2 linked regions of the Homo sapiens genome follow. The protein of the gene in region 2 interacts with the protein of the main gene of each other region in a biochemical or structural test. Each region holds a gene or a part of one and is shown on either strand. Other genes may lie near its edges.

What was found.
Region 1: the proteins of RAB40B (region 2) and CUL5 form a complex in vitro, tested with the Homo sapiens proteins (one study listed by BioGRID).

Annotation. Positions count from the first base shown.
Region 1 is NC_000011.10:108,067,888-108,071,703, reverse strand, and holds part of CUL5 (cullin-5), read right to left. Parts: intron 1,609-3,816; coding exon 1,515-1,608; intron 1-1,514. UniProt on the Homo sapiens protein: Core component of multiple cullin-5-RING E3 ubiquitin-protein ligase complexes (ECS complexes, also named CRL5 complexes), which mediate the ubiquitination and subsequent proteasomal degradation of target proteins.
Region 2 is NC_000017.11:82,660,443-82,664,258, forward strand, and holds part of RAB40B (ras-related protein Rab-40B), read right to left. Parts: intron 2,302-3,816; coding exon of another isoform or gene 1,992-2,301; exon of another isoform or gene 629-1,991; coding exon of another isoform or gene 606-628; coding exon 545-605; intron 1-544. UniProt on the Homo sapiens protein: RAB40B small GTPase acts as substrate-recognition components of the ECS(RAB40B) E3 ubiquitin ligase complex which mediates the ubiquitination of target proteins.

The sequences.
Region 1 (3,816 bases), on a different chromosome or scaffold from region 2:
GTGGTGGTGCATGTCTTTGGTCCCAGATACTTGGGAGGCTGAAGTGTGAGGAATGCCTAAGCCCAGGAGGCTGAGGCTGCAGTGAGCCGTGATTGCACCATTGCACTCAGCCTGGGTGACAGGGCAAGACGGTCTCAAAAAATAAAAATAAAAAAAGTGATCAAATACTGCAAAACCCAACTCCTTTCTTTAAAAGGTCAGTCATTTGGCCAGAAGCAGTGGAGATCAGCCTGGGCAACAAGGTGGGGCTCTGCCTCTACAAAAAATACAAAAATTAGCCAGGCATGGTGGTACACGGCTGTAGTCCCAGCTACTCAGTGGGCTGGGAGGTGGGAGGATCGCTTGAGCCCAGGAGGTCAAGGCTACAGTGAATTGTGATCGTGCCATCGAATTCCAGGTTGGGCAACACAGCGAGACCCAGTCTCAAAAGAAAAGGTGAGTCATTTGGTTTTCAGTGCAAAGGAATATTTATTTACACACAAGATTAGTTTATTTCATAAGGTAGTTGTAATACTACATATACAGCCATATCATCAAAAGGTAAAAAACATGAGTAATAATTACGAAAGCAACTATATTAGAGATTAGAATATAAAACTGTATTCATAAATAATTTTTCAATTTACAAAGCACTTTTTCATGTTATGCCATTTTATTGACCTTCACAAAAACCCTACCTCACGGTACTGATTACCACTAAATAAATCCTTTTGAAAAGAGTGCAACATAGATCAGACATAACTCTAATTAGACTGGCACACAGAATACAAGTATTTTGTTTACGCCAATAAAGCAGCTTGCTTTTTACTACTGAATTACTCCTAAAAAGTGTATGAACTTAAGTGAATTGAAATATGCACTTTAAATGCAACTAGAGATTAAACAGGACCTTGCAGTTAGATATAATAAAACCTGGAAACTCAGTAGAAGTACGTTATTTAAAAAACAAAAGCAAAAAAATGTTAAAAGCAGTTTTACTGGGGTAGTAGGTATATGTACAATTTTTTTTTTTAGTTTGTTATATACTTGCTACCTCTCAAAACACATCTTTTTAAGAAAACATTGAAGTAATAAAAAAATCCTTTAGAAATCTTATAAAGTATTTTGGGGGACAGAGATGACTATTAACAGGGAGTGTTTTATTACATTCTAAAAAGATTCATCACAAGGTTCCACACAAAAGTCAAATACCTGGTTCTAATCTATAACATATGTTTCCAGTTTAAACTGGCCTTTAAAAGCAGTGTCTTGCTTTTGAGAAAAAAGTAGAAATTCACCATACACATACACAGATGTTGATAGCTAAGAGGGAAAATGCTTAAAATTTAAGTTTATATACTCTTAGCAGTGCCTCTGTGTTAAATATTTTATCTATTTCCTTAAGTATAGTTCACTCTAACAGTTCCACATATACCTATGTGGAAAAGAATTAACTAAGAGCAACTTAGTAAGTGATTTGTTTCAAAGATACCCTCTTAGAAGATTATGATAACTTTATGTGATGTTTTACCTACTTTCAGTTTCATTTCTCTTGATCATGCCTTGGCACTCAGCTAAGATAGTCTCTTTAAATGATGTCACCAGGGCATTTACACAGCATTCCATGAGCTGAAATATATCAAAAATTAGTCAAGGCTACTATAAGCTGTATAGCACAAATCTATTCTAACTCACAAAATAAAACAATATTGTTCAACAAAAAAAAAATTATACTGAAAGTAGATTTCACTTACCTTAACTATAGGATTATTGAAGATGGATATGCTATACTAGTTTACCAAAGTGTATTTTCCCCTAAGGAAAAAAACTATAGAACTAGACTCTCTTTAGAAATTTTAACAAAAGTCCTCAAGGAGGGGAGAGAAAAATATACAAAACCAAACTTTGATTAACTCTTCCTGTCTGGAGAGAACCTGTTTTAAAATTAGGTTATAAAATTCTAGAAGTGTGAATACATTCATTCAACAAACCATTATTGGATGCCTACTACGTGCAGGCACTAAGGAAGTATTTAAGAGACAAGAATAAGATATAATTCCTGCTCTCGAAGAGATCACTGTCTAATTGAGAGTGAGGAGGGCAGTAAACCTACACTGCTAACTAAATATAACTCAGTTAAGTGGCATCACACACATACACAAACACACACAAAATAAAAAAAAACTTAGAAACTACTTTTTTCTAGGGTAGTTAAAATGGCCTCATCCACAAGTTGGTATCTAAATGGGATCCTGTAAAGTAAGTACAAGCCCTAAAATAGGTTACGTATTCTAGGAATACCAGGAAGCTTAAAATGGTAGAGAAGAAACAGACAGTGGAAGAGAAGGCTAGAAAGATAGGCTGCAACCAGATTATGAATGAAAATCTATGATTTGGGGTTTTATTTCATAGGTAGGGAAGGAAGAACAAAGGAAGGTTTTTTTGTTTGTTTAAGAGACAGAGTCTTGCTCTGCTGCCCAAGCTGGAGTACAGTGGCATTACTACATAGCTACTATCATACCTCACTACAGCCTTGAACTCCTAGGCTCAAGTGATCCTCCTGCCTCAGCCTCTTGAGTAGCTAGGACTACAGGGATGTACTATCAAGTCTGGTTAATTTTTTAAACTTTTCTGTAGAGATGATGTCTTGCTATGTTCCCCAGGCTGGTCACAAACTCCTGGTCTCACATGATCCCCCTGTCAGTCTCCCAAAGTGTGGGATTACAGGTGTGAACCATCAGGCCTGGCCCCAAGGAAGTTTTAAACAGAGGATAAATGTAATGAGATTCTCCTCTCCTCAAGTCATTATTAAAGATCAGTATAATGGTAGTAAGGCAGGTGGTAAGGAGTGGGTGGTTGGGATATGGTAACGAGGCTGTTGAACTATTTCAGGTAAGATAGCAAGGGTCTAGTGCTCTAGGAGGCCATCAGGAAAATCTAAATGAGGCAGAAGATATCATGTCATCTCTGCTCCCTCGTGTCATGTAATTATTTACTTCTCTTTTGGGGATCAGATGAAATTAATAGGTTGTGAGGACTAAAGTTAAGTACAATAAGGCTGATATATTTCTTCTGAAAAACAAATCATCTATCTGTAAATTAAGGGAGGCAATTATGTGTCCCTTAAAAATTTTTTATTAAAAATTCCTTTGGAATTGACATAATGTTGGTAACTACTAAAGCTGAATTTAGGTAATGGGGATTCATTATACTGTTCTTCCTACATTGTAAAAATGCTTAAAATTTTCCGAATAAAGAATTTTCTGTGGTCCCTGCGAGTTGGGGGGCTGAGGTGGGAGGGTCAGTTAAGCTCAGGAGGTCAAGGCTGCAGTAAGCCTTGATCATGTCACTGCAGTGTAGTCTGGGCGACAGAGCAAGACTGTCACAAAACAAAACAAAACAAAACAAAAAAAAAGGTTTTTTCAGGCTCCTCTACAAGAATGATGCTGATGACTTTTAAATGCATATATCCATGTATATTTCTGTCCTAAGAAAATAATACACATGGCTGGGCGTGGTGGCTCATAGCCTATAATCCCAGCACTTTGGGAGGCTAAGGCGGGCGGATCACCTGAGGTCAGGAGTTCAAGACCAGCCTGACCAACACAGAGAAACCCCATCTCTACTAAAAATTAGCCGGGCATGGTGGGTGCCTGTAATCCCAGCTACTCGGGAGGCTGAGGCAGGAGAATTGCTTAAACCTGGGAGGCAGAGATTGCAGTGAGCCGAGATCGTGCCATTGCACTCCAGCCTGGGCAACAAGAGCAAAACTCCGTCTCAAAAAAGGAAAAAAAAAAGAAAAATAAAGAAAAGACTACACATATAAAATGGTTAAGA
Region 2 (3,816 bases):
CATGCAGATGCACGCATACACAGTGCAAGTACCTGCACACGTGTACACATACACGCACATGCAGGCACTCATGCACAGATGCATACACAGTGCACATACCTACACACACGTGTACACACACACACGCACAGGCACTCATGCCCAGATGCACACATACACTGCACATACCTGCACACACGTGCACACACACACGCACAGGCACTCATGCAGACGTATGCACAGTGCACGTACCTGCACACACATGTACACACACACACACACACAGGCACTCATGCACAGATGCACGCATACACAGTGCACGTACCTGCACACACGTGTACATGCACACACAGTCCCGTAAATGCACGCTTACATCCGTAATACTGATGAAGTCTTTCAAACAACCAACCACTCTACAGCACGTTTTTAGACTCTCAGCACCAATTTATACGTAAGCTTAACCGCCTTGTCCTCCAATCATCCATTAAAGGATGGTAAGTTAAGCATTGTAAATGTTATTATTCAAAGTTGGTTTGATCTCCCAGCTCGGGGGATGCTGTGTTACCTGTGCGCCCCGGGAGTAGGAGCGGAATATGGTACAAAATCTTCCCTGGCCTGAAGTATCCCTGGAAAAGATGTTGGAGACCATTAAGAAGAAACCAGTGCTTCTTCCTGACAACAGGTTCTGGAACTTCAGAGCCACAGCAAGTGCACCACACACCCGCCAGTCAGCAGCCACCACGCCGCCAGCGTGAGACCCCAACAAAACTTTCCAATGTCCCTGAAGGGATCCGGGTGTTGGGATGTCCTCCCAGGCTCATGCTCTTCTCTGTCATTTAAAAAGTCAAACTAGAAAAAATAGTGACGGTTTTAACATAATTCTCAGATATTTAAATACATTCAATGTAGGCTTTAAAAAACTTGTTGAATCTGAAGATAAATCTATGCAGTAAGGAGTGTGGGTCTACACCAGGGGAGAGAGGCCGGTGGGATCCCTGCTCTTCCAGTTCAACTGTAAGAGCTCACATGGAGTCAGCCCTTCCAGTGTGCCCCTAAGAGGGGAGGGATACAGGGAACTGCCTGGCGTGAGCTGCAGGCAGGGCTTGAGTTCTCAGATGACGGCACACGCAGCAGGTACTGGGACCCACAAAGACCAGAACGGAGCTCCAAGAAACAAATGAAAGGCCGGGCTTGGCGGCTCACACCGATAATCCCAGCGCTTTGGGAGACCGAGGCAGGCGGATCACCCGAGGTCAGGAGTTGGAGACCAGCCTGGCCAACATAGTGAAACCCCGTCTCTACTAAAAATACAAAAATTAGCTGGACATGGTGGTGTGCTCCTGTAGTCCCAGCTACTCGGAAGGCTGAGGCAGGAGAATTGTTTGAGCCCGGCAGGCGGAGGTTGCAGTGAGCTGATATCGTGCCACTGCACTCCAGCCTGGGAGACAGAGTGAGACTCTGTCTCAGAAAAAAAAAAAAAAAAAAAAAGGAAGAAACAAATGAGGGTGGAAAGGGTGCTCCCCAGGGATCAGTTCCCAGAGGAGGCGGCCCTGGGACAGCCAGCGCTGTTTCCCGGAGTCTGCACATGCAACGAACACACCTACATCAATGGGAGATTCCCCAGTGGGCCAGGGGCTGGCCCCGCACACGAGACACAACCTCACGGATGAGCGGTGGGACGCGGCATGGTTTTGCTGTTTGTGTCACATGCACCTGTGGTCGGTGACCACCCTCAGCACGAGAGAGAAGGGCCTGGGGCTCCAGAGGGGACCAGCGACACTGGCCATTGCCAAAGCCTAGGAGTGAGTGCCTCATTTCCTGAGAAGCAAATTGATCTAGAATTCAAGCCTCAGCAGGACCTCAGGTGCTCAGGCTTTGCACACAGCGGGAGCTGCCCAAAAGCTATGGTCGAGGAGGCAGCGGGCCAGGTCAATCTGCCAGCTTCGCAGGGAGGCCGAAGGGCCAGCACGTGCTGTCAGAGTGCCCCATCGTGAAGTGGGAGCACTCCCTCCTCAGCTGGGACAACGTGCCGGCCTCCTGGGCCGCTGCCACCCTGAAGGAGCAGAGCAGAGCCCAACCCCAGCCCCAGTGGGTGTGGGGAGGGAGGTGAGGGCAGGTGGGGGCAGGCAGAAGACCCAGTTGTGGGCACCAGGAAGGACCACACTCTGGGGTCCACACTCCGGGGTCCACGGTGGGAGTGTGACCTTGCTCAGACGACAGTGTGGACAGAGCTGGCACCGGCACCACAGGAGAGCAGCCTCAGGGTCCTGCTGGGGCCTGGGGGGATTCTGAGCTTGGCAGAAGCCCCCTGGGATCTCACTCCTGAGGTGAGAGGGAGAAAAGTGTGAGGGTGACTGTTCGGCCCACTGGGCAGCTGGGGTCAGGGAGGCGTTCGCTAAGGTGAGCAGCCAGACCCGGGGTGGAGCTGGGAGAGGGCACGCGCCAGCCCTGATGCAAGCAGATCTTTAGGAAGGCACTGAGCTCAGGGGCAGGCGTGGGGCCGAGTGCGGCCTTTGGGTGGCCTTGGCCCCTCAGGAAGGAGTGGTCTCGGGGAGGGAGGGAGAGACTTGAGAACAAGGTCCTGGACCTGCAGGGCTCAGGGCCAGGAGGAGGCAGCAAAGGCCCAGCTGGCGGAGGGTGGGGAGCAGGACAGGGGCTGACGGCAACCCCAACGCCAGCCCAGCGAGGGCATGGCCCCGGGGGAGTGGGGACCTGAGAGCAGACTGGGCGGGAGGCCTGAAGCTGTGCAGCAGGAAGGGTCGGGGCGCTTGGGGACACTGTGGAGACAGGCTCCCCAGGACTGGCCACTACTAGACGGGGCAGGCGTAGGAAGGGGACAGGTAAGAGAAGGGGGTCCCAGCTGCTGGAGGCACACGTGGCTCGGGGGTGGCCCAGCAGGCAGGAAGGGCCAGGAGGCTCAGGCGAGGGTCACCCAGGAGTGGCAGCAGTGCAGGAGGGATGCCCAAGAGGGAGGCAGCCCCAGGATGAGGCACCGCAGGAGCCCCCCATCCCCACCGCCCCAGAGCTGGAACCGCAGGAGCTCCCCCCATCCCAAGCCAAGAGCGGGTGGAGGGAGAGGTGTTCCAAGCTGGCCCCAAGGTGGGGGTGCTGGGGGAGGGAGAGGTGCCCCGGGCTTGCCCCAAGGTGAGGAGCTGGGGTTCTCACAGCTGAGAGAGCAGAGCCAGCAGCCCCAGGCTGGCCAGCAAGTCCTCACCTCCCCACGTCTGGGTCCTCCACCCGCAGGCCCGACCACAGCCCCGCTGGCACCAGGACGCTCCGAGCTCCCTGCCGGGTGCTCAGTGGCATCACTGAGCCAGGCGTGGGGGACCCAGGAGCCCCGGGCTGCCTCAACCACGCTGCATCGGTCCCCTCTTGGCATCTTCCCACAGACACCAGGCCACAGGTTCTGATCCCAAAAGCCGATTCCCAGCCACAGCGCTATGTCCGTTCTGGGGTCCCCTACTCTGGATGACGGGGGCCCAGACAACCGGACCACCACCTCCTTCAGAGAAGCCCTGGTGCAGCTGGGGCTGGGGGTGCTCCCCGGGGCGCTGTGCCGACGGTGGTGGTGGGAGGGTGTTCCCGGGGGCGCTGTGCCAACGGTGGTGGGGGAAGGGTGTTCCCGGGGGTGCTGTGCCGACGGTGGTGGGGGGAGGGTGCTCCCCGGGGTGCTGTGCCGATGTTGGTGGGGGGAGGGTGCTCCCTGGGGTGCTGTGCCGATGGTGGTGGTGGGAGGGTGTTCCCCGGGGGCGCTGTGCCGACGGTGGTGGGGGAAGGGTGCTCCCTGGGGTGCTGGGCAGATGGTGGTGGGGGGAGCTTGCTCCCTGGGGTGCTGGG